Linked DNA regions of Homo sapiens: all the other regions are linked to region 2. Evidence: fine-mapped expression QTL. A gene starts in region 2. Each other region holds a variant in brackets. All regions are shown on one strand. Distances are from middle to middle.

Region 1 (4,092 bases), 27 kb after region 2:
CTGAAATGAAAGGGATAAAATGAATACTTAGAGAATAATACTTCATTTTTGCAGTACTTTTTAATTTTGATAAAAAAGATACAAAGTTCATAATATCAAAATATGTGTTCAAAATTGGTATTTTAATTTTAATATTTTTGTAAGTTGATTTAAATTTTGCTCTTTTTTCAGGTGTGCTTGGTTTATTATATTTAGTCAAGTTAATTTAGTCGAATGTGGTAACATTTTTCTGATTTATCTTTAGTTGGAGCACACCCTTGAACTGAACAGTGGCCAAAGGAAAGCTTTCTGGGCTTTGGAAAGTAGTTGTTTAACTTTGTTTTAAGCCGTTTTCTTAGTGATTCTGTATCAAGTAGAGGATAAGTGTAGTTTAACTTAGTTTTTAATATAACCCATAATCAAGAACATGAGCGAAAAGCAGACATAAATCGATATGGATGGTTTGTGGTGTGTGTGGGATGTGGGGGAATTAAGAAAATGCCATTTACCTAAGCACAGTTTGCCTGAATTTCTGCTTGGTTGTGTTGTTTACCGTAAGTACTGAGGGTAGTTTCCCTAAGTCTGTCCTGAGAAAAAGCATACTTAGTACTCCTGTATTTGTTCTTATGAAATGACTATCTGCCTTCTTGTATCTAGTAAGATTGGCTGGCTCAATTTTCTTCTGTCAAATTATATGGTTATTTTTTATATTACCACATCAGCATTATATTAAAAGTGTTTTTAATAGTTGATTGTATTTTGCCAACTACTAGTATAGACTCAAATTTGCTATTTAATTTTTAAAATACAATTTATTTTGTAAATCCTTTAAAAAATATTTGGTTAGTTTTGGATTAGAAATGATTTATGTTAGCCATGTGTTGAAGATGAAATTGGCATCAGTGTAGACGGTGCTGATTGGGAAAAGTTCATGATTAGGAAATTCATGTAAGACTTTTTAAGAGTATTTTTTAGGTTTTCACTCAATCTTTCCTGTCACAGTAACGTGAAAACTGATTATTCTTTACTCCAAGAGAATGTTTTAACCCAAGCAAGTATCTAATACTAGAGCATTGGTTCTGACATTCATTGTAAATCAGTGAACTGTAAGATACTGTCTAAAAAATGTACATTTGTAATTAGTGCCTTTATTCATATTTTGAAATAAGTTCTTAGTTTTATATTATACCTGTTCTTTAGAAGTCATGTTAGCAGCTAATTATTTCAGTGATGAAATAATTTGTGTTTTATATCCCCCTTCACCTCCATGTATTGGTTAGCACAGTTTATAGTAAGTGAAAAGCAAGGGACCCACCTACATTACCTTCAGGAGACTGTTCTACCTTTTAATTTGAAAACAAGGAAATTAAATTTTAACAGAAATCTTTTAAGTATGTTATAACCAAAGTGTTCAATTATCCTTGCAAGTTCAAATACAGCATTTTTCTTAATTTTGAGCGTGTCATGTCCTTCATCTTTAAACCCATCATTCTTATTGAAGCCCATTTGAGAACTCTTAGAATTAATAGAACCTTTTATAAGGGAATATATGGAATATTTTTTATTGTTAATGTAACTTAATTCCTTAAAACCTGGAATATTAATATATATAATCTATTAAAAGCTGAAGATTAAATATGTAATTTTTGCTTTTAGTTTCTTGTGTTAGTATGCTTAAAGGTATCAATACTTTTATTCTATATTCATTAGAAGAAAGGTAATAAATTTAAGTTTCATTGCTGAAAAATTTTAAATGAGTGCCACCCCATAGCCATAGTCATTTTGATTAAGCATAATTTAACTTTCATTATAGCATAAAGAGAAAATAATTATTTTAGTATGGAAACAGTGATAGGCAGTGCTGTAAACAATATTCTCTGAAAAGTTGTGGGGGTCACAAAGAAAATTTTAAAGAATATAGAAGCTTTTTTAAAAAATCTTTTTAGTGTAGTTTCTTAGAACAAATTATAAACATAATCATTCTGAATAATCAATTTTTATTTAGTCCTTAACTATGTAAAACCGTATCAGTAGAAAAATGTGCTGGTGTCGTGTCTAAAGATGGATAAATTTCTTTGGAATTTATCTTTGGAGACCAACTTTATGAGGCAGACTTTTTGTCTACAGCTTTGGAACCAAAAAAACTTCACTCTAATTCAGTCCTAAAGGCTATTTTACATTTTGC[C/T]GGGGTAAAGTGACTTCAAGATACAGCATGGTGTCTTGTATCTAGTAGAATATTGTGCTAGCCATCTAAAAAAGTGGATTTGAGCCTTAATTTGGCCGTTTCTCAATTGTCTAGTTGACCTTAGACAATTAGTGTCCATGGCTTTCCTTTTGTTTTTCCCATACTGAGGAACTTAAACTACAGCTCTAAAATGTCTTTTGGTTTTAAAATTCTGAATGCTTATATACTACTATTAAAAATTAAAAATCCCTCAAATAGTAGGGCAATACAGGTAATATGAAATTAAATGTATTTTTATCCATTATTTGATTCCCACCTGTTATTTTATTTAGAATACGAATACAACCAAGTAGGGAAAAACGTATCAGTAACTGCTATTCAACTTAAATTCAGCGAATTAATAGCTGAATAGAAATAGCTAATGACAATGCAAAAGAGAAAACAAGCCATATTGCTAAGAAAAGGATAGTAAGCTGCTTAGAAAGAACCAGCCTGTGTTGGAAATAATTCTCTTCTAGATAATTTACCTTATTTTCTTGGCTTGTACTAATTGAATGGAAGTGGTTAATTTGTTCAGAGTTTATTGCCGTTTGATGCCACCCCAGTCTATAGTTCTGTGTGACTTTCCATATTGAAAGAGTAGGGTTAGTAGCCAGGTTGTCAGTCTTTTACAAATGTCTACATAAATGTCTACATAAATCTGAAAGTGGTTTATATTCAAGGTTAGTTTTTCAGTAGCGTCTCCTCCTTATTCATTCACTTTTACTGTGAAGACTGAAATCCAAAAGCCAGGTTCCCCAAAAAAGTATTTTTAAAAAATTTTAGGGGACCAAAATAAATAGAGGAAGACCAATATAAAAAAATATGTTCAACTATTCCATTTTAAATTTAAAGCAGAAAAAAAAATTGTGCCCCTCAGACCTAAAGGCAGCTTTAAATGTATATAGTTTGGTGAAACATTTGGGAAATATTAATTTGGAGGTTTAGAAGCATACGAAAAACAAATTCAAAGCACTTGAAAGTAAAGACAATATCATGAGGTCGAAAAAACTTCAAAAGGATATTAGGTAAGAGAAAATGTGAATGAAAGCAGTGAATTTCTGCCTCTCCTCGTATTTAGGGTACTTAAAATTACTAAAAAATACTGTCTTTTTACCATACAGCTAGATGGCCTGTATTATTCTTAATGTGGCCAAAGGAGTGAAGACTGATTAGGGTTTTAGAATTTGGAACTGTAGTCACATAAAGGCATCTTTTGCATTTCTTAAACCAGTAATCTACATTTTCTCCTGGAAATGGAGAAATATGAAATGTGCTGTGCATAGCTTTTGGAATAGAAAACAAAGTTTTAAAAGAATGGATATGTTTTCTTGCACAACTTGTAAAATTTTAATTAAAAAATTACCTCATTTTTCAATCCATAAGGTGCTTTGCTCAAGTTTGTGGGATGTTTGTACCATCCCATAAAAACCCCCTTCACCCAAACTGTATTTGAAATATGCAAAATTCATAACTAAGGGATAGCATTCCTTGGAGACTTTGTTTTGTTTTACTCTTGTTTACCAGCTGGGCCAACATGGTAGATATATGAGATTCACATATGGTTTCATTAAAGCACATAGGAAAGTGCTCAGTCAATATTTAATTAGTTTAATTAGATAAGGGAAAGGAGAAATCCTAAATTTGATGGATTCTTTTATACTGTGAATATATTTCCATCAGTGTTGGTAAGATATCAAATGACTATCAGTTGATCCCAGTCATCAGTGACTTATTTGCATATTTAAGCCCTATTCACAAGAGACCATAATCATTTTAATCTTATATTTTCCCTCAGGAAATTTAGGGACTCTGAAGCCCCTATTTTATTCTCTTGGAGTAAACTGTTGAGTGTAGTTACAAAAACTTTTATTTATGACTTAAAAAAA
Region 2 (4,092 bases):
TCAAATATGACGGTATAAAGACTCAACAATATTCCCTTGTAATTAACCGAAGCTTTTCAAGAAACGTATTTCTTTGTCTTCCTATTTGACTAAACCCTGCTTTACAGAATCTTCACAAACCACTTGTTAGCCTACTCATGCACCAGCCTTAAAAGTATTCATACTTTCTCAAGGTTTAGTCTTATCAAAACTGAACATTCAGCCTGGGCAACATGGTGAAACCCCATCACTACAAACAATACAAATATTATTAGCCAGAGTGGTGGCCCCTGTCTGAGGTCCCAGCTACTCGGGAGGCTGAGGTGAGAGGATCACTTGAGTCCCAGAGGTCGAAGCAGCAGTGAGCTGTGATCATGTCACTGCACTCCAACATGGGCAACAGAGGGAGACCCTGTCTCAAAAAAAAAAAAAAAAGGCATAAAACTTAATATTCCTTTCCCTTCAGTACTTTTCACAAAGGCATAGCTTTTCATTTTGTAAAACCATACCACTGATGAGACTCGAGGCAGAGGCAGTGTCAAAGAAAGACGTTTGGATCTTCTTTATAAAACGACGTTCTCCATTTTAAAATCTGCTGAAAAAATTGTGGTATGCCCCTACTTCTCCTAATATGTGCCTTATATTTTAAGTCCCTTGAAATCAACAGAATATATTTTCTCTTTCCATACAGTCTAGTACCTCAAGCTAATCTTTGGAAATGAAACGTAGAAATCAAATCTAAAAGGCATGGCTTCAATAACATATTCAAAAATGAGTAACATTTAAGTGGTGTTACTCTAACTAAGAAAACTAAAGATTTCAAAAAAAACAAAGTTGCTTAGAGGCAACATGGTAAAGTGGTAGAGAGGACAGGCTTTGCAATAAAAGACAATCAACATTTACTGAGGACTTCTGTGGCAGGCACTGCCAATTGCAAACAAAATTAACATTTTTTGAAGACTTACATGCCAAAACAATGCAAGTTGTTTTCATTTACGTTTAATATCCTAAAACAACCTGGTAAAATATTTTTAACTTGACTAAAAAATTAAAGATTTGAAAAAAAACAAAGTTGCTTAGAGGCAGCATGGTAAAATGGAATAGACAACAGGCTTTGCAATCAAAGATAATCAACATTTACTGAGGACTTTAGCAAATAAAATTAACATTTTTTGAGGACTTACATGCCAAAACAATGCTAGTTGTATTCACTTACGTTTAATATCCTAAAACAACCTGGCAAGATATTTTTAACCATTCTCAATTTTTCACAGAAGAGAAAAATCTAGGTTAAGCCACGTAATTTACAAAGCACTAGAATGCAAATCATGTGCCTGAGATTCAAAAGCTGTACCTTTGTTCATTACACCTGAACTCTTTCCCTCCAGATTTCAATAGTTACTTGATAGCTGTGTCAACTTGGATCAGTTACACAATTCCTTGAGCAGTTTTCTGCTCAAGTCTATTAAAAGAGGAAAAACCTCTAAGAAAAAAAAGATTGTGAAGATTAAAGATGCAAATCTCCTAGCACAACTGCTGGCATTTAAGAGGCACTCAACAAATTACAGAAACCTTTTCACCTGAGTGCCAGAGCCAGCGCTCTTTTAAAATTCGATTCGAGTTCTTGAAGACAGGGACCTTTTCTTGTTCATCCTTGTAACCCTTTGTGCCATGCCTGACAGGCACATGCCTTTTTTCCCTTCTTTTCCACTCCTAAATGTTAAAACATATACCTTATTCACTTCGTATCTCAGTAAGCTTTAATACCTGTAGAAACATATTGGTATTTTTACACTTGATAGACAAGTAGTAAGGAACGACGGCTGTCAAGATTTCCCTTTATACTTATTTCTATTTCTCTCGAGTGTGCGAATATTTGAGTTTTTGCAAAATATCAACTAACATCTTTACTTGACCTACCTCCTTATTCATAAAGCCTTCCTTAAGATAGTTTTCAACCTCAGGTCTCAAAGATATCTTAGGGAAAATAGACATTTTTCCTGTTGTTTAGTTCTCCACCAAGAGAAATGCTGGAAAACGGTGTTTTGTTTTTTTTTTTCTTTCCGAATTAATAGTGACGAGTGTCTTGACACCAGATGCTGAGGAAAATCTTGCCGATCACGCTGAGTTAATTTCGGAAATGCAGAGGTACACGCTTTCTCAAGCCTAGCCGATTAGAAGGGGCTGCCGGGCTTCCACCACACCTCATCGAGGCAATGTTTTCTGGTAGAGATGCTCATGGAAATCACTGAGCCAATGCCACTCACGTTGCAAAGAACCAAAAAAAGAAAAAAATGCTTAGTAACTGAATCCGTGGTGAAACGGACGCAGATCAGTAAGCCAGGCTGACAGCAGCTCGGTCCCTTTATCTTTTCTATCAATTTCCAAACACGCGCCCCCTATTTCTCGGCGGAAAGTCGCTTCCGGCTTACGTCACGTCCGGCGCCTGCGGCCCACCCCTCCCTTTCCGGTCCCCCAATCCACAGCCGCAAGTTTCCCCAACACTGCGTTACGCTACGCCACGCCCCCGGAGGTTCCTAACCCTGCGTGAGGCTCTTTCACCTGCCTCAGGTTAAGTAGGCAGACCCCGCGGGCGGGATGGTCAAAGATATTTAGTTCCCGGTACCGGAGGGCTAGGTGCCAGGGGCAATGGGGAAACAGCCAAATGGCGTGGGTTGAGTGGAAGATGTTGCTGGACTGAAAAAAGGCACAGCCCAGTTGCTGTCCTGCCAGATGTCCTCCAGTTAGAGGATGAGGCCAGAATTTGGGCGCATCAGCCACCGTTTGATTTCATGACATGATTTTACCTCTCTCAGGCATACAGATCTGACTTCAGTTGTGAAGTTCATAGGGTTCATATTTTTGAAAGTTGGGCTAATGGTCTGTTAATATCCAATGCTCAGGTAAAACTTAAAACCCACAGACAGTGTTTACAGTTAGTTATAAGGCTAACTGCTACTTGTATCATAGTTGACATATTCTTTAGAGTTTGGAAGACCCTCGCCATTATTTTTTTTTCTTTTTTTTCATCATAAGCAGACAAGGATATAGATTCAAAGAACGAGGATATCTAACCAAACTCACTGAGTCATTTTATAACTGTACAGGAAAGTCAAAATAATTCTATCACCTTGACATATGTTTTTTGCAGCACACCATGGTAATTTACACATAAGTATAGGAAAGGGTTTTTTATTGTTTTTTTCTCTTTAATTTTCACACCGAATTATACACACAGACACACACACATAGAACAGGTACTTTCCATGACACACCAACTCTTTACCAGAAAGAGTAGAAAATAATGAATGACCATTATACCACACAACAACCTGCAAGTTGTTTATCATTTTCTCTGCTCTTTTTTTTTTTTTTTTTTTGAGTCTCTGTCGCCCAGACTGGAGTGGAATGGTGGGATCTCGACTCACTGCAACCTCCACCTCCTGGTTCAAGAGATTCTCCTGCCTTGGCCTCCCGAGTAGCTAAAATTACAGGCATGTGCCACCAGGCCCAGCTAATCTTTGTAATTTTAATAGAGACGGGGTTTCACCATGCTGGCCAGGCTGGTCTCAAACTCCTGACTTCAACTGATCTGACTCTCTAGCCTCCCAAAGTGCTGGGATTACAGGCGTGAGCCACCACGCCCAGCCCATTTTCTCTGTTTTAAAGAGTAAATCAAGGTTCCTAGGGTTGAAACAACTCTCCATGTTCTCACAAATAAAAAGCCAGGATAAAGACTAGTAATTTGGCTTCTAGAGCCAATACCTTGTCCTTGACCATAGCATATTTCTTCAATAAATCCATGAGATTCTTTCATGGCTAAAACATCTGAAAGTGATAAATGTCTAAATCAGACATTTCCAAAGGAATTTCTGTAGCCTGAATTTCATGGTGACCATAGCACCACTGATGGCTAGAATCTGTATTTTAGCGATAAAGGAGGAGAAACAAGTTGAACTACATTTTAAACTCCACAAGGATAGAGACTTTATCACACCACTATGTACCCAAGCCTAATCCATAATGGGCACTCAAATACTTACTGAATGACTAAATGAAAAGATGGATGAACATCTCTATAAACTATGGAAAGAAAATGCTGATAAAGCATTT
Region 3 (4,092 bases), 100 kb before region 2:
AAAGAAGAGGCAATCTAAAGGTCTTACCTGATCCAAGAGACCTTGCAATCCTTATGGATACAATAAATAGTTATGAGAAATTCCTAAAGAAAACCTGTGGAGGGCGGGGCGGGGGGGCGGGCGGAAATCAAACTATTAACCAATTGTCCATTTCTTAAGCCCAAGGCCTAATAACTTTTGGGTGATTTGAATGAAAGTTAACAAAACAGTATGATGGATTTAACACCATGAGACAGCCTTAAAACTATGGCTGGGAAGTAAGTATTCTGATTGATCTAAAAAGCCAATAGGAAGGCAAAATCCTAAGGCTGTAATGTTTTTTTTAAAAGCTGGCTGGGTGCAATGGCTAACATATGTAATCCCAGTGCTTTAGAAGGCCAAGGCAGCGGGACTGCTTCAGGCCAGGAGTTCAAGACCAGCTTGGGTAACAAAGCAAGATCCCATCTCTTTAAAAAAAAAAAAAAAAAAAAATTAGCCAAGCATGGTTGCACACAACTGTGTTGTCCTAGCTACATGGGAGACTGAGGCAGGAAGATTGCTTTAGCCCAGGAGTTTGAGGTTGTAGTGAGCTATGAAATCATGCCACTGCACTCCAGCCTGGGTGGCAGAGCAAGACCTTGTCTTTAAAAAGTAAAATTAAATTGAAAAGCAGTCACTTATTTTGGCCACTACAGTGGGATGCTTGATTTTTGCAATTCGAAGGATGATCTGCTTTTTGTCTGAATTCAGACTTGATTGTGGTCTTTTTTTGTCTGGATCTATGATAGGTACGGCTGCCTTGTCTGATGTTGGGGATAGGTGAAACTGCTTACGTTCAACAGGAGAACACCAAGGCCCAGCTATAAGGGTCAGGTCAGGCCACTTCCCAGCTGCCAGAGCTGGTTTTTTCTTTCTCACCAAGCATTTTCTAATAACTGATATGTTTCAAATACATGATAAGTTATCCAAATTGTAGAATAATCTCATTTTCTAAATCTACAAAGTAAAGAAAATACTAACTTTACTTTTTCGTTTAAAATTATGAAAAACATTGAACATAGACTACCATTTAGACTACGATAGTCTTTAGACTATCACTTCACACTATCATTCAGAGGAGGTCCAGACTTCATTTGAAAGGGGGTTGACTTACTAAATAAGCAGACAGAGAGTCAGGTAAAATACTTACCTCCATTATTGGCACATAGTCAATGTTTTACTTCCCATGCCCTGAATCCTTAAGAAACTAGGAACCTAGAAACAAAAACAACTTTTCATAACCACATCAAATATTGCTAATTTATTCCTTTTGTTAGATTCACTAATTTTTAACATTAAAAATGACTTGTACACTTTACAAATTAAAACATTAGATCACAAATGAAAATATGCTCCAGACATCTATAGGCATCTGCTTTTCTTTATACTCTACTAAATACATAAAAAAAAAAAATCTTTTAAAAACAGAAAATATAATCTCATACCACCCCCTACTTCCTCTATGTCTCTGGATCCCTGGTAAAACAGCTGGCAGCCTTTTCTGTTTCCATAGCAACCACATCATCATTCAGTTGGCCTGACAACACTTTGGT[T/TAAAAAA]AAAAAAAAAAAAACCACAGACAGCAAATGTTTGGAATTTTCATTTCTGAGCATCCATCCCTCTCCTATGTGCTTTTGCATTTTACAAATTTTGCAATAAAAAAACCTATAGAGTCCTTATTAGCCAGACGCAACATGTCTTCTCTTCTGGCCTCTCTAAGAGAGTCCATGTCAGTGTCCGGTAATGGCACAGCCGATGGATCAAATCGCTGCAGCTGTTTCAACTGTTCACATGAGAGCCCAGCTCCCCTCATTCCTTCTCCTCCAATCTGCGGTTCCTGTTTGGAGAAAGTGGATCAATATGGATGAACATCCTGTAATTAGCAAGTATGACTGCTACAATTTAAGTTAAAAGACAAATTGGGCTGTAACGACTACATCTTCCAAAAATAGAAAAATGAGTAAATGCCTTTCATTTTGGTGGAACATACGTGCTGCTTTCCAGACAGTAAAGTAGGAAAGCAATACTATGCGTCACCTGATGAACAAATACCTATTATTACATGCTTATCAAACACTGTGACATTATCAAAGGCCTGAGCTTCCTAGTTGGAAACAAGTGGACTCAAATTGCAGCTCTACCACATTTTAGCTGTGTGACTTTAGGTAATGTTAACTAACCACATTTCCTCATCTATTAAACAAGGCTTAAGTAACGAAGGTGGTATCACACCTGGCATATAGCAGGGACTCAGTAAATGGAACATTATTATCAATAAAGCAGCAAAGGCCAGGCACAGTGGCTCACACCTATAATCCCAGCACTTAGGGAGGCCGAGGCGGGCTGATTACCTGAGGTCAGGAGTTCAAGACCAGCCTGGCCAACAAGGTGACACCCTGTCTCTACCAAAAATACAAAAATTAGCCAGGTGTGGTGGTGCATGCCTGTAATCCCAGTTACTTGGGAGGCTGAGGCATGAGAATTGCCCGGGAGACAGAGGTTGCAGAGAGCCAAGATTGTGCCTGGGCAATCCAGCCTGAGCGACAGAGTGACACTCCATCTCAAAAAACAAAAAATGAAAGAAAAGAAAAGAAAAGAGAAGGAAGGGAGTGGGGACGGGGAGGGGAAGAAGAAAAAGAAAAAGAAAAAAGAAAAAAGAAAAAAGAAAGCAACAGAAAAAATTCAGCTTTATTTAACAGTTTCCAAAACTGAAAGGTGGTCTTTGGGCATCTAAGGTACCTCTCTCTGACCCATACCAGTTGGGCGAGAAAAGTTTCTAGAAAAACAAACATAAGAAAGGAAACATAATTTAAGGCTGTATCAATTAGTTTAGAGGAATCATAAGGCATTGAATGATACTTGCAAACTACTGAAGAAGATCTATAATCCTAAGTCACCATCACAGACAATCATCTGCATGTTAATGAAGATAGGTTTTCAGACATATACTTAAGAAAACAGATCGTTTATTATCCCATGGAGGTCAGGGGAAAACTTCCCATCCCTTTTAGGTATATATTTTGAGTGTGTGTATATTTCCAAATGAATTCCGAAGTCTTCCTTTCATCTACAATGTAATTATCTTAATTTACGAGACTAGAAACCATCTCTGAATTGTCTTTATTTATGTATTCCCATTACCTAATTTCTGTATAGAAAGGTACTAAAGTTAGATGCTCAATGTATCTGAATGTATGCGAGCATTATTACAGATTTAAACTTAATCTCAAATATCCTGGACTAAAAATTGAATCAAAAATACATTTCTAATAAAGACCATAACATAAAGAGTTGTGTTAGGTAAAAGAAAGTATAGCAAAGCTTTTTAAATATTATACATTTTATATAATAAGCAATAATCCAGAAATACTTTTTTCCCTTTCAGCTGGTCTTCTGATATCCCACAGTTATTAAAGCTCATTTGAGCTTTGATGTGACATGAGAGAAAATGCTCAACATTTTCCATGTCAGAAAAATACAGGACTGGGAAGGAGAAAAAAATCTTTTTAGAAAAAAGGTGCCGAGTAACATGAATAGCTACAAGGGGAATAAACACATAACAAAAACACTCCCAAGCTCTGTGCCATTTTAACACAATGGCAGGAACAAAGATGAGAAAAAACTTTGTCAGGACATGCAAATTATGGGCAGTCTAAAGTGGATTTAATTAGATAAGCATTCTTGTTTATTACAGTGTTCACTTTGGAAGTTTTACTTATCTCTTCGTTAACACCCTGATTACCACAGTGCTTCAGTTTCTGTGATTTATCTTATTACACAGAGAAAAATGAAATTACTCCTACCTGGGGCTGAAGCTGAAGGCAAGGAAATTTTGTCAGGGCCCAGGCAACCTGTTCTTCATTTTCGGCCAGTGTTATAGTGCACGTGCTATAAACCAGCACACCCTCTGGCTTCAGCAGCTGAACCGCCTAAAGAAAACTGTGATCAGACCACACACAGCACAAGACCAGATAAACATATGAATGAATTTCAAAGCAAAAGGTATAATGTCTTTCAAATGTTTGGGATAAATAAAATGATGTTCTATGTGACAAGGATTCCTTCTGTAATTAGAGTATG
Region 4 (4,092 bases), 100 kb before region 2:
GTTTGTCCACTTTCTCAATGCTGTACCGTCAACATCTAGAATAGCGTCTTACATACAGGAGATCTATGAGTATTTGTTGAATAAATTAATCAGGAGATAAGGTATTGTGCTAAAATGGACTTGTCTGAAATACCTAAAGTTCAGCTTTTCAAGCTCCTAATTTTTAAAAATTTAAAGGAAATCTTTAAAAATAGAGTATACATACTTGTGCTTTTTAAATCAGAGTATGCTGATCAAAATTTAAACTTTGTTACTATGTGCCAGTTACTGTGTGAAACACTGTATATGAATTTTTCTCAATAAATCCTTATAACAACCACAAAGTAAGATGACTATCACCAATGAGGTATTCCTAATAGGTAGAGCTGTTATCCCTGCTACTCAGATATAGAAAACAATGTACCTAAAGTCACTTAGGTGGAAGAGCCATGGCTCAAGTCAACAAGGCTCAAGTCCACATTCTCGATTTCTCTCCATGCCAAATGGCAAACCTGCTATATTCTAGTTCTCTCTGATATACTGTCAGCTTTTCCTTCTCATTGAGATCATTCATCTACTCCTAGTAGCCTTTTAAAATACCATTTTTGCTGTGACCTAATAAGAACAGAAATCCAAGTCCTTTACAGAAGTATCCTAATTTTATTCTCAAGTCAAAGTGGGTTTCGGCTGTAACTAAAGTTTCCTTTTTGCTGCTTGCTGTTTTAATTCTGAGGATGAGTTCTTCGAAGACTTCATAGAAAAAGACGAAGTTAAATAATACACAACCAGTGCTACCTTTGTATATGAAAGGAAACACCAGGAGAGTTGAATCAGAATGTACTCAAAGGCAGCTTTAGAAACTAAATCATTATAGAACATCCATTGTTGCTCTAGCCTTGTATTTTGGAGGGCTGGGAGGAAATAATGAATTCATCTATGATCAAACACTGCCTATACACGCTGAAATCCACTGAGTCATTTTTGAAAGACTAGGAGAAATCCTCAAATGTTCTATCTGGGCTTCTGAAAGTGCTGGAGACAAGTTAAATTTGTACAGTTTTTATGGTTCTCCTATATCCTACGCTGGCCACTGTCTCTTCCTGTTTTTATCAATGAGTTTTGCTCCCTATTGGGCCTTCTTCTAAAGACGACCCCCAAAAAATCTCTTTTTTTTTTTTTTTTGAGACAATCTTACTCTGTTGCCCAGGCTGGAGTGCAGTGGCATGACTTCAGCTCACTGCAACCTTCGCCTCCCGAGTTCAAGCAATTCTCCTGCCTCAACCTCCCGAGTAGCTGGGACTACAGGCGCCCACAACCACACCCAGCTAATTTTTTGTATTTTTAGTAGAGACGGGGTTTTGCCATGTTGGCCAGGCTGGTCTCGAACTCCTGACCTCAGGTGATCAGCCCGCCTCAGCCTCCCAAAGTGCTGAGATGATGGGCGCAAGCCACCATACTAGCCAATAACTCTATTTTTTTAAAAAAAAGAGTAATTTATTTTATATCTAATTCTTTACATCAATTAGTAACTACAAGTTAACAACTCAGTGACTTTTTTCAGATAGAGAATATTTGAAATTTATTAAATATCTCAGTGATGAAATTCTACTATTGCCTGTATATCTTAAAGGTGAGTCAACTTAAATGAAAACTTCCTATATTTAAAACTAGGTCCTCTCAGTTGTGTGTGTGTGTGTGTGTGTGTGTGTGTGTGTGTGTGTGTGTGTGTGGTAAAATATAAATAACATAAAATTTATCATTTTAGCCATTTTAAGTCAATAATGACATTCAGTACAGTCACATTGCTGGGCAATGATCACCACCATTCATCTCCAGAACTTTTTCATTATCCCAAACTGCAAGTCTATACCCATTAAACAATAGCTCCTCAATCTCCCAGCCCCACAATGCCTGGTAGTATCTATTCTTCTTCCT[G/C]TCTCTGTGAATTTCCCAGCTACCTCATATAAGCAAAATCTTAAAGCATTTTTCCTTTTGTGTCTGGTTCATATTACTGAGCATAATGTTTTCCAGGTTCACCCATGTTGTGCCTGTATCAGAATCTCATTCCCTTTGAAGGCTGAATAATGTTCCATGTATGGATATAGCACATTCTGTTATCCATGTATCTGTCAACAGACTCTTGGGTTGTTCCCACCTTTTGGCTATTGTAATGAACGCTGCTATGGAGATTGCTGTCAGTAGTTTAAACATCAAAGTAGCAAAAGTTAACTTTGTTTCACAAAAACAGACCACCACATACTGCAGTGAAGAGTTTTCGCTGTAATGGCTGATATGATGCCACTTCCTTCACAGACCAAGTACAGGCCATGTTTGGTCTCTGTCCCATTCCACTACAGGGTGCATCCAGAAGAATTCGGTCAAAGGATTCTGGTAGAAATGGAGGTTCTCCTATAAAGAGAATTATAATCATGTTTACTATCTTCCATATAGGTTTAAACTAGAAAACTCCTGAGATGAGCAGGAATTTAAAATCATAATCTAGAATAAAAAAATGAAACAATTTCTCCCTTCAATCAAGTAGCTGGTTAAACTAATTTTGACTTATACCTAATACAGATTTGATGTGGTAGAAAGGTTTAAAATGTAGTTATAGTTGAAAAGTTATTCTGTTGATATAGTACAAACCAAGGCCTAATCACAAAAGACCTTCTACCCCAAACTTCAGAAGCCACAACTCATCAAAGCTAGGACTTGGAATTAATTCTAGTTGTTCTGGAAATGGATACTTCTCTTGGTAATTCCTATTGAAGACAGCCCCCAAGAAAATGCCTGTTTGACTGTTGTGAAACACACTGATTCTGTGTTCCTGAGTCTCCTTGTTTCTGTGGCCATGAGAATGGCTATGGTCTAGAATAGGGAGAATGAGCCAGTACCACCCCTAGATTCAATCTTCCACGAAGTTTTCCTTTGCATTCACTTCAGTAATTTTCTCTAACTTCTAATCTATTTAATATTATTGGAGGAAGGTGTGAAACCAAGTGGTCTGTTTACATATTTGGGCTGTCTACCTGCTACCAAGATTTCCATTCCATTCCGCATTCCATTTCATTCCGCATTCCATTCCATTCCCCATTCTATTCCATTCTCCATTCCATTCCATTCCATTCCCCATTCCATTCCATTCTGCGTTCCATTCCATTCTCCATTCCACTCCATTCAATTCTCTACTCCATTCTATTCTCCATTCCATTTGATTCTCCATTCCATTCTTCTCCATTCAAATTCCCTAATCAATTCCATGCTCCATTACATTCCATTCTACACTACACTGCATTCCACATACCATTCCATTCTCAATTCACCATTCCATTCTCCCTTCCATTCCATTCCACTACACTCGACTCTCCATTCCATTCTCCACTCAATTCTCCATTACATTCCATTCTCCATTCCATTCCATTCCATTCTATTCCACTCCATTCTCTAATCTATTCTCCATTTCATTCCATTCCCTTCTCCATTCCATTTCCCAATCCATTCTCCATTCCATTAAATTCCATCTTCAGTTCGATTCCATTCTCCATTCCATTCCGTTCGATTCTCCATTCCATTCCATTCTCCCTTCCCTTCCATTCCATTCTCCATTCCATTCCATTGCATTCTCCATTCCATTCCATTGCATTCTCCATTCCATTCCATGCTCCATTCGATTCCATTTCATTCTCCATTCCATTCCATCCTCCATACCATTCCATTCTCTATTCCGTTCCGTTCTCCATTCCATGGAATGGAATGGGGAATGGTATGGAATGAAATGCAGAATGGAAGAGAATGGAATGGAGAATGGAAGGGAATGGGAAGGAGAATGGAATGGAATGCAGAACGGAGAATGGAATGGAATGGAGAATGGAATGGAATGCGAAATGGAATGGAATGGAGAATGAACTGGAATGGAGAATGGAATGGAATGGAGAATGGAATGGAGCGGAGAAAGGAATGGAGTGGAGAATGGAATGAAAGGGAGGATGGAATGGAATGAAATGGAGTGTGGAATGGAGATTGTTTTGAATGGAATAGGGAATGGAATGGCATGGAGTGGAACGGAATGGAAGGAAGAATGGAATGGAATGGAGAATGGAATGGAATGTAGTG
Region 5 (4,092 bases), 32 kb before region 2:
CCTGACCTCAGGTGATCCACCAGCCTCAGCCTCCCAAAGTACTGGGATTATAGGCATGAGCCACCACGCCCAGCTTAGACTCTTAATTAGTATTTCTAATTACCTACGGACAGCTATATAGAGACGTCTCACAGTTACTTCAAACTCAACAAGTCCTAAACAATAATCAGTTTTCCCTCATCCATTCCTCCACTCCTTGGCAGGATCCCAAATCTTTTCATCCTGTTTCCAATCTTGAATGAGACGTCATTATCTGCCCAGATAACCAAACTAGATGCCTCAGTGTTACGGTCTGGATGTGTCCCCCAATATTCATGTGCTGGCAACTTAATCCCTAGTGCAACAGTGTTGGAATATGAGGCCTATTGGGAGCTGTTCAGGTCATGAGTGCTCTGCCCTCATGAATGAATTAATGCTATAATAAAAAGGGCTTGCAGCAGTGAGTTTGCTTTCTCTTGCCCTTGTGCCCTCTACCATGTACAGATGCAGCAAGAAAGCCCTCACCAGATGCAAATGCCTCGATCTTGGACTTCGTATCCTCCAACACTACAAAAAACAAATTTATGTTCTTTATAAATTATCCAGTCTCAGGTATTCTGCTATAGCAGCAAAAAATAAACTAAGACACTCAGCGTCATCTTAAAGTCCTCCTAAGCCTTCACATTGATTGATTTAGGAATCAAGCTATCTTCTAGTTCTGATAGGTTTTGTGGGCGTATCTCCTGATGTTGGACACATATCTCTTTGTGATTACTGAAATAGCTTCCTGCCTTTTACCACTGGTTTCAGATTTTCTCTGTCTTTGGTGTTCTGCAACTTCACTCTGAAGTATGTAGACATGAATCTACTTTTACTTTTGGCTTCAAGCTCACACTTCTTAAATTTTTCATCAGTGATAGAAATTCATGGTCATTACACTTGTGATTATTGTCTTTCCCCCATTATTCCTATTCTCTATACCTGAGACTCATTAAAAATATAAATGCTGGTCAGGTGCAGTGGCTCACACCTGTAATCCCAGTACTTTTGGAGGCTGAGGTGGGTGGATCACATGAGGTTGGGAGTTCAAGACCAGCCTGACCAACATGAAGAAATCCCCGTCTCTACTAAAAATACAAAATTACCCAGGCATGGTGGCGCATGCCTGTAATCCCAGATACTTGGAAGGCTGAGGCAGGAGAATCACTTGAACCCAGGAGGTGGAGGTTGCAGTGAGCCGAGATGGTGCCATTGCACTCCAGCGTGGGCAATAAGAGCAAAACTCCATCTCAAAAAAAAAAAAAAAAAAAGAAACGTAAAGTGCTTTTTCATGACTCAATTTCACTTTCATATTTTTAATTTCTCTCTGCTGCATTCTAGATAATTTCCTAAGAGTCATCTCCTAATTCAAAAACTTTCTCATCAGTTGGGTCTAATCTGCTGTTTAATTCATTGTATGAGTTTTTAATTTTAATGATAATTTATTTTTAGAAATTTGTTTTCAATTCTACCTTTTTATCCTTAGGGTCTTTTATGTTTTACTCTTTCATTTTTAATCATTTTAAGAAAACTGTTTTGTCTACAGCCATATCACTCTGAACATGCCCGATCTCAGCTGATCTTGGAAGAAAACTGTTTTTATAGTCTATGCCAGAGAGGTCTATTTGTTAAAAGTTCTGAGGGAAATCCAATCCTGCAGCTTATTATATATGCTGATTCTTACTCATAGTGGTTTGATTCCCAGTGTAGCTTTTAACAATGCCAAGTGTTTGGCTTGGACTGAATGAGTGCTGCTCCAGAGTGGTGTCACTTAGTTTTTGCCAAGTACCCAGGAATTGGCTTGGGACCAAACAGTTAATTTCCCAGTTTGCAGGTTCCAATTTAGGTTGCAGCAATTTGCATTCCAGACCTTTATGACGGAGGGAACTTACGGCTGCGCATTCTCAGAAACACATTTTTCTCCAACCTATATCCTAAGGCAAGAAAGACCTACTTTTAATTACTGCCTTGTAATGACTACTGGGTATTTCTCACCCTTACTATTAACACTTAATTGTTTAAACCAAAGACCCTAAATTTAGAAGAAAGACCACCTCCTTTCCCATACCTTCAACCCCCCAATAATAACTCACATGCTTGCTGTTCTCTTTTCAATTATTCTGCATTCCTAACCTCTAATATATCAACTACATTTTTAATCACTCAACTAC[A/T]TCATTTTGTGGCCTACTATGTTCTTTTTTACTTAGCACTCCTCGGTGTATGTAGCAAAAACATCTTCATGTTATCTAATTCACCATACATATTATTGAAGCTAAAAAACTCGGAAATACTTTTCTAACTTTTCTCCAGGTTTGCAATTCAACTTTTGAAAAAATTTCTGAAACTTTTGACTGTCAGTTGATGTAAGAAACACACTTGATAAAAGAACTTATTTCAAGTTTTTATATCATTTGAGATCTTGATATAAGAAACTACACATACATGTCTGTGTGTGTGGTATCACACATAACATTTCATTAAATATTTTTACTATGTGCGATGCAATATATTATAAAACATCCCTTTTTTTTTAAATATTCATTGAAAACATTAAATTGATTTCACAAGTTACTAATGGGTCATGATCTCCAAGCAGTTTGGAAGACCACTACCACTATTATATTTCTAAAATACACATCTAATTTTTACTAATAAAAAAAATTTTTTTTTTTTTTGAGACGGAGTCTAGCTCTGTCTCCCAGGCTGGAGTGCAGTTGCGCCATCTTGGCTCGCTGCAAGCTCCACCTCCCGGGTTCACGCCATTCTCCTGCCTCAGCCTCCTGAGTAGCTGAGACTACAGGCACCCGCCACCATACCCGGCTAATTTTTTGTGTTTTTAGTAGAGATGGGGTTACACCGTGTTAGCCAGGATAGTCTCGATCTCCTGACTTCGTGATCCGCCCGCCTCGGCCTCCCAAAGTGCTGGGATTACAGGCATGAGCCACTGCGCCCGACAATAAAAATTCTTTAGCTTCTTAAGTCTATGAAAAAAAAATTCCTTGGTACAAAAAAATCTTCATACTTCATATCTGCCTCTCCCAACTTCTTCAGTTTCATCTTTCACCCATCCCCCAACTCTGAAAACAAATAGCCAAACCTGATCACTTTTATCAGCAGCCACCAATGTTTCATGCATTCATGTCTTTCCTCATGCCTTCTCTCTGCCTAGCATAACCTTGCCCACCTTAACAGCCCTTCGGCCTAATTTCTCCTCACCTTCAAGACTCAAATGAAATAATATCTGCTTAGAGAAAATATTTAACAATTTCTTTGTACTCAGTCCTTCCTATTCTATGCTCCAATAGCATTTAATTTATACTTCTACTGTGACTATCATAACAGTCTGACTTGTACCAAAGTCTCCTGACTTTAGACTATAGAACTATGTCTCATTCATCTTTGTAACACCATCACATCTCACATATAGCACAAATTCAAAAACATGTTTTGTGGAAGTGAAATCTGTAGTGTTAGATTTTATGAAAATAACATGGAGGGGAAAGGATGAATTCTGGAACAGAGAACTGTGCAGAAAAAAGTTAACATAGTAGGCCTGATCTGTTATCTTTGAAAAGCCTGCTTACAAGGCTGGCCCTTGACTGACATCTGGGAACTGAGATTTCAGGAGGTTTACTTATTAACTGCTAAGAGTGGCTCACTGTGCCTGAATTATTGAACAAACTATGATTTATAGTAAATACCAGCTTTCCTTCTGAGAATCCAGAATGTGGGTATGTACCAGGCAGTGGGAATCTACATGATGAGCCCTGAATAGGAATCCTGGCAGTGAGTCTCATGTGGTCACAGCTCAGCACTGGGGGACTTCCTGTGGGAGTCCTGTGTGACTCCCCTGGAAGAGGACTCTGGAAGCTTGTGATGGTTTTCCCTTTGCTGATTGTGCTTCATATTCTTTCACTGTAACAAATCATAGCCGTAAGTACAAGTATGTGCTGAATTCCCTAATTCCTCTTAGAGAATCACAGAACCAAGGAATGGTCTTGGGGATCCATAGACACCAGGACTGACAATATAAAAACACAGTATGTCATATGCAAGTATCAATATTTAAGTCAG
Region 6 (4,092 bases), 120 kb before region 2:
CATCTTTAATTATTTTCCTTTATTATTTATCTCTGCCACTAGACCATTAGCTATCTGAGGGAAGACTGGTTCTTATTTATTTTTCATGCCTATCACAGCAATGAACTATGGCACAGAGACTAGGAATATAGGGTCAGGAGTCTGGGTTCAAATCCCAGCTCTCCCACTTAGTTACATACATACCCTTGGATAAAAAATCTCTCTGTGAGTCTCATTTTTCATCAGCAACAGTGGGATAATAGTAAACGTTTCTCCTAGAGCTTTTTGGATCATTTAGTAATTCAAATAAAGTGCTCAGTACTTATCTGACACTTGTAAGCAACAAGTAAGTGCAACGTAAGGCAGGTGCAGGATAGGGCCGGGCGCGGTGGCTCACACCTATAATCCCAGCACTTTGGAAGGCCGAGGGAGGCGGATCACTTGAGGCCAGGAATTCAAGACCAGCTTCCATAGTGAAACCCCCTCTGTACTGAAAATACAAAAATTAGCCGGGTGTGGTGGCACACACCTGTAGTCCCAGCTACTCCAGAGGCTGAGGCAGGAGAATCACTTGAACCTGAAAGGTGGAGATTGCAGTGAGCCGAGAACGCACCACTGCATTGCAGCCTGGGCAGCCTGGGCGAGACTCTGTCTCAAAACAAACAAAAAACAAAGTAAGGCAGGTGCAAGATAAAAATGAATAAGTAAAAAGAAAAAAAATGAATAAGTAAGTATCCTAACACATATGGTTTGAAAATATGGTTGCTATATATATTTCATACTTAGATGAATTTGGGGCATACACTTCTATCCCCTTTGATTAGACCAATAACCTTAAGGTCTTCTGTGACTTTTTCCTCCAACAGGATATCCATCACAAGGGTCACCGCTGACATCTCGCTTGCCAAACGCTCGGTATTAAACAATCCCAGTAAGCACGCAATAATAGAAAGATCCAACACAAGGTCAAGCTTAGGTAAGTCTGTGCAATGAGCTTAAGCTTTTTAAACTCTCCTCTCCCGATGTTGATGATGAGAAGACCTAACAAGATGATAATTCCATGTGTCACAGAGTATAGAAAAAACAGGTGTGTGCTGCCAGTCGCTGTTGCTATGGTCTTACTGATTTCATGGTGTGGAAGGATTTGTTATGATAGTTTCAAGTTAAGAATTCCACAGGCTGTCAGCATTAATGTTTTGGTTGTGGTTTGTTTTCACTAACATGAGCTTTGGTGTCTGCAGACTCTAAGATCTCCTGGCTTTGCATCAGTGTTACCATGAGCAAGTTTATTAACCTTTTGAAGCCTCCATTTCCTCATCCTAAAAAAGAAATAAAATAACTACCTCATAGAATCATTGCAAGGATTAAACATGATATGTGCTCAATAAATGATATCCATTATTATCCTAAATATTCCTTAATTCCAGTTATATATCAATAATGAAATCATTCTCAGGAGAGTGTAATTTGTGGGTGTGGAAATTAGTAAAAGATGAAGTCAATTCCTGGCTATATTTATTGATAGATATCAATATGTTTGTTTTATTTGTAAAAACAGTGTAGGGAGTTATTGTGTTTACAGAGATGGTATGTGGATACTGCTTATTAACGTATACTGAATTGATCACACTGAGACCCTTCAGCTGCTATTTAATCTTTTTGGTATGTGCTTGGAGTTTTAGGTTAATCACTGTTACACATGTTGCTTACTGGATGGTTAGGTTTCTGTTTTTATAAAGTAAACTTTCTGAGAGTTGTGTCAGATCTTTGAGCTTAATTTTTCTCTGTTTATAGGTTAGATATACAAATCCTCTGAGAGGCTGGTTTCTAACATAGAAGTTCTTCGTTTACTCTGAAGTATGATTATATAAATAACAGAAAAACTATTATAAATAATAAGCTTTATATGTTAGCAATGAGCATGATACATTATAGAACTCAGTTTTGTTTCTCACCTAACAACCCTTCGTTGGCAAAACTTCAGTAACAGGTTTAGAAATATATTTGAGGAAAAAATGTAATCATGTGTTTTGCTTATAGCAATTCCTTTTTATGTCCTTATCATCTGTCACAGTTAAAACTCTTTCCACACATCATTTGATGCTCACAAGAATTACTTTTTATTTTGACTTTTTTGAGAGAGGGTCGCACTCTGTTACCCAGGCTGGAGTACAGTGGTGTGGATCATGGCTCACTGCACCTTGACCTCATGGGCTCAATCAAACCTCCCACCTCAGCCTCCTGAGTATCTGGGACTACAGGCACATGCCACTACATTGGGCTAATTTTTTGTAGAGAGGGAGTCTCACTATGTTGCCCACGCTGGTCTCCAATTCCCAGGCTTGGGCAATCCTGCCTTGGCCTCCTGAAGTGCCAGGACTATAGGTATGAGCCACTGTGCCTGGCCAAGAATTATTATA[A/C]AATGCTTATTTCATAAATTAAACTGAATTAACAAAGTCAAGTAATTTTTTAGACTCATCAGTGGAATCAATTACATAACAGATTTCCTTAGATTGCCAAGATTTTTTTTACAACTACTGATTATACATTGTTTTTAAATGAATTTTCCAGTCTATGTATTTCATTGAGCATACACTAGATACCAAATATCATGTGGAAGCCCATGAATAAAAAAAGAAACTGATGAAGCCCCTTCCCTCAAGGAGCTGGGTGTAGCCATAAGGCGAATCAGTGAAGAGCCCTTTGAGATAGAGGGTGATGAGCAAAGTGGTCGAGCCATGAACTGGCTGCCAAAGAGCTGTTGCTGCAGGAGGCACAGGGAAAGGCTTTTCCAGGGAGCTGATCCTGAGCTGAGACTTGAAGATGACAGGATTTAGCCAAGAAAAAAGGGAAAGGAGTGGAGAGGGTGACAGTGATTCGAGACAGTGAAAGCCACAACAGGCTTCTGAAAAACATAGGTGCTTCATTTAAGCTAAAATATATTGTTTTAAAAAGAAGGACATGGGAGATGACATGACAGAGAGAGGCAGGCATAAGACATGAAAAGGTTGGAGCTTATTTCTATTAGTCTGTTCTCAGGAAAAAATGTGATCATGTGTTTCGCTTATAGCAATTTCTTTTTTATGTCCTTATCTATCACACTTAAAACTCTTTCCACACATCATTTGACGCTCACAAGAATTACTGCTAATAAAGACATACCCAAGACTGGGTAAAGTAAAGAGGTTTAATGGAATCACAGTTCCACATGGCTAGTGAGGCCTCACAATCATGGTAGACAGTGAAGGAGGAGCAAAGTCACATCTTACATGGCAGCAGGCAAGAGAGAGCATGTGCAGGGGAACTCCCCTTTATGAAACCATTAGATCTCATGAGACTCATTCACTATCAGGAGAACTACATGGGAAAGACCAAGTCCCATGATTCAATTACCCCCCACCAGGTCCCTCCTGTGACACATGGGAATTATGGGAGCTACAATTCAAGATGAGATTTCGGTGGGCACAGCCAAACCATGTCATTATTCTTAAGGTGGTAGGAGACCATGTACAGACTGGAGGCATTCATTCATTTAGCAAATACTTGAATACCAACCATGTGCCAGCCATTATTTTGGTGCCCAGGGACACAAAAGTGAAGGACACAAAGTCCTCTTTCTCATAGTGTTTGTTTTACAGGAAGACATGGACAAAATCTTGTATATATAGACAGACAGAGATGGCTGGTCAGTGGTTGAGAATTCTAAAAGCAGCAGCAGACCAAGGAATAAAGAGTGAGCCAAGGAGGAGGCTGTAATATTATTATAATAAAATGCAAGAAGTACAAAAATGCAAAAAAAAAAAAAAAATGCAGTTGGGCAAACCAACTGCATCTAACACCAAACCCATTTTATAATAAAGTGTAGAGTATATCATGTAATGTATTGAATACTAAAAGTGAAAAACAGAATGGTTGTATGGGGACTCAAAGTTCGGTTCCCACTGTACATATATTGCTTTCACACTCTTATAAAGTTGAAAAATCTTTAAGTCAAACCATCGTAAGTCATGGACTGTCTGCACTTAGTGTAGGCCAAGTACTGCAGTAACTATAACGGAAGCTTTGCATGTGGATTAATTTAGTCCTCATTTCCGTAATACAGATTAGAATACT

Alleles and levels. Positions count from the first base shown, and alleles are read on the strand shown. Sizes are in standard deviations (SD) of each study's normalised expression. Not every link is listed here.
As copies of C replace A in region 6, the expression in CD4 T cells of the gene that starts at base 2,358 in region 2 goes down (moderate effect, 0.52 SD a copy in CEDAR).

Evidence for each region. PIP is the estimated chance that this variant, and not a neighbour inherited with it, causes the effect. A credible set is the group of variants that fine-mapping cannot tell apart.
Region 1: its variant is the best candidate, but not a certain one, in a credible set for the expression of NSUN6 in whole blood (TOPMed, PIP 0.59).
Region 3: its variant is the best candidate, but not a certain one, in a credible set for the expression of NSUN6 in whole blood (INTERVAL, PIP 0.56).
Region 4: its variant is the best candidate, but not a certain one, in a credible set for the expression of NSUN6 in whole blood (TOPMed, PIP 0.74).
Region 5: its variant is the best candidate, but not a certain one, in a credible set for the expression of NSUN6 in whole blood (INTERVAL, PIP 0.75).
Region 6: its variant is the best candidate, but not a certain one, in a credible set for the expression of NSUN6 in CD4 T cells (CEDAR, PIP 0.90).

Annotation. Positions count from the first base shown.
Region 1 is chr10:18,676,585-18,680,676 of GRCh38, forward strand. It overlaps ARL5B (ARF like GTPase 5B), which reads left to right. Exons shown (of 6, transcript NM_178815.5): 6 at 1-4,092. Among named protein-coding and RNA genes, the nearest start is that of ARL5B, 19 kb to the left of the region's middle. The variant C/T (reference allele first, on the strand shown) is at 2,165.
Region 2 is chr10:18,649,230-18,653,321 of GRCh38, forward strand. NSUN6 (NOP2/Sun RNA methyltransferase 6) reads right to left here and starts at 2,358. Exons shown (of 11, transcript NM_182543.5): 1 at 1,900-2,358. The coding sequence starts at 1,974. RefSeq lists an enhancer at 2,498-2,597.
Region 3 is chr10:18,544,297-18,548,388 of GRCh38, forward strand. NSUN6 (NOP2/Sun RNA methyltransferase 6) reads right to left here. Exons shown (of 11, transcript NM_182543.5): 10 at 3,816-3,941; 11 at 1,265-1,849. The coding sequence ends at 1,637. Among named protein-coding and RNA genes, the nearest start is that of CACNB2-AS1, 7.1 kb to the left of the region's middle. The variant T/TAAAAAA (reference allele first, on the strand shown) is at 1,572.
Region 4 is chr10:18,549,584-18,553,675 of GRCh38, forward strand. NSUN6 (NOP2/Sun RNA methyltransferase 6) reads right to left here. Exons shown (of 11, transcript NM_182543.5): 9 at 2,240-2,388. Among named protein-coding and RNA genes, the nearest start is that of CACNB2-AS1, 12 kb to the left of the region's middle. RefSeq lists an enhancer at 2,969-3,470. The variant G/C (reference allele first, on the strand shown) is at 1,915.
Region 5 is chr10:18,617,413-18,621,504 of GRCh38, forward strand. The region is part of intron 3 of NSUN6 (NOP2/Sun RNA methyltransferase 6); the gene reads right to left. Among named protein-coding and RNA genes, the nearest start is that of NSUN6, 32 kb to the right of the region's middle. The variant A/T (reference allele first, on the strand shown) is at 2,190.
Region 6 is chr10:18,526,743-18,530,834 of GRCh38, forward strand. It overlaps CACNB2 (calcium voltage-gated channel auxiliary subunit beta 2), which reads left to right. Exons shown (of 14, transcript NM_201596.3): 10 at 846-955. All of the region lies in intron 1 of CACNB2-AS1 (CACNB2 antisense RNA 1), which reads right to left. Among named protein-coding and RNA genes, the nearest start is that of CACNB2-AS1, 10 kb to the right of the region's middle. The variant A/C (reference allele first, on the strand shown) is at 2,400.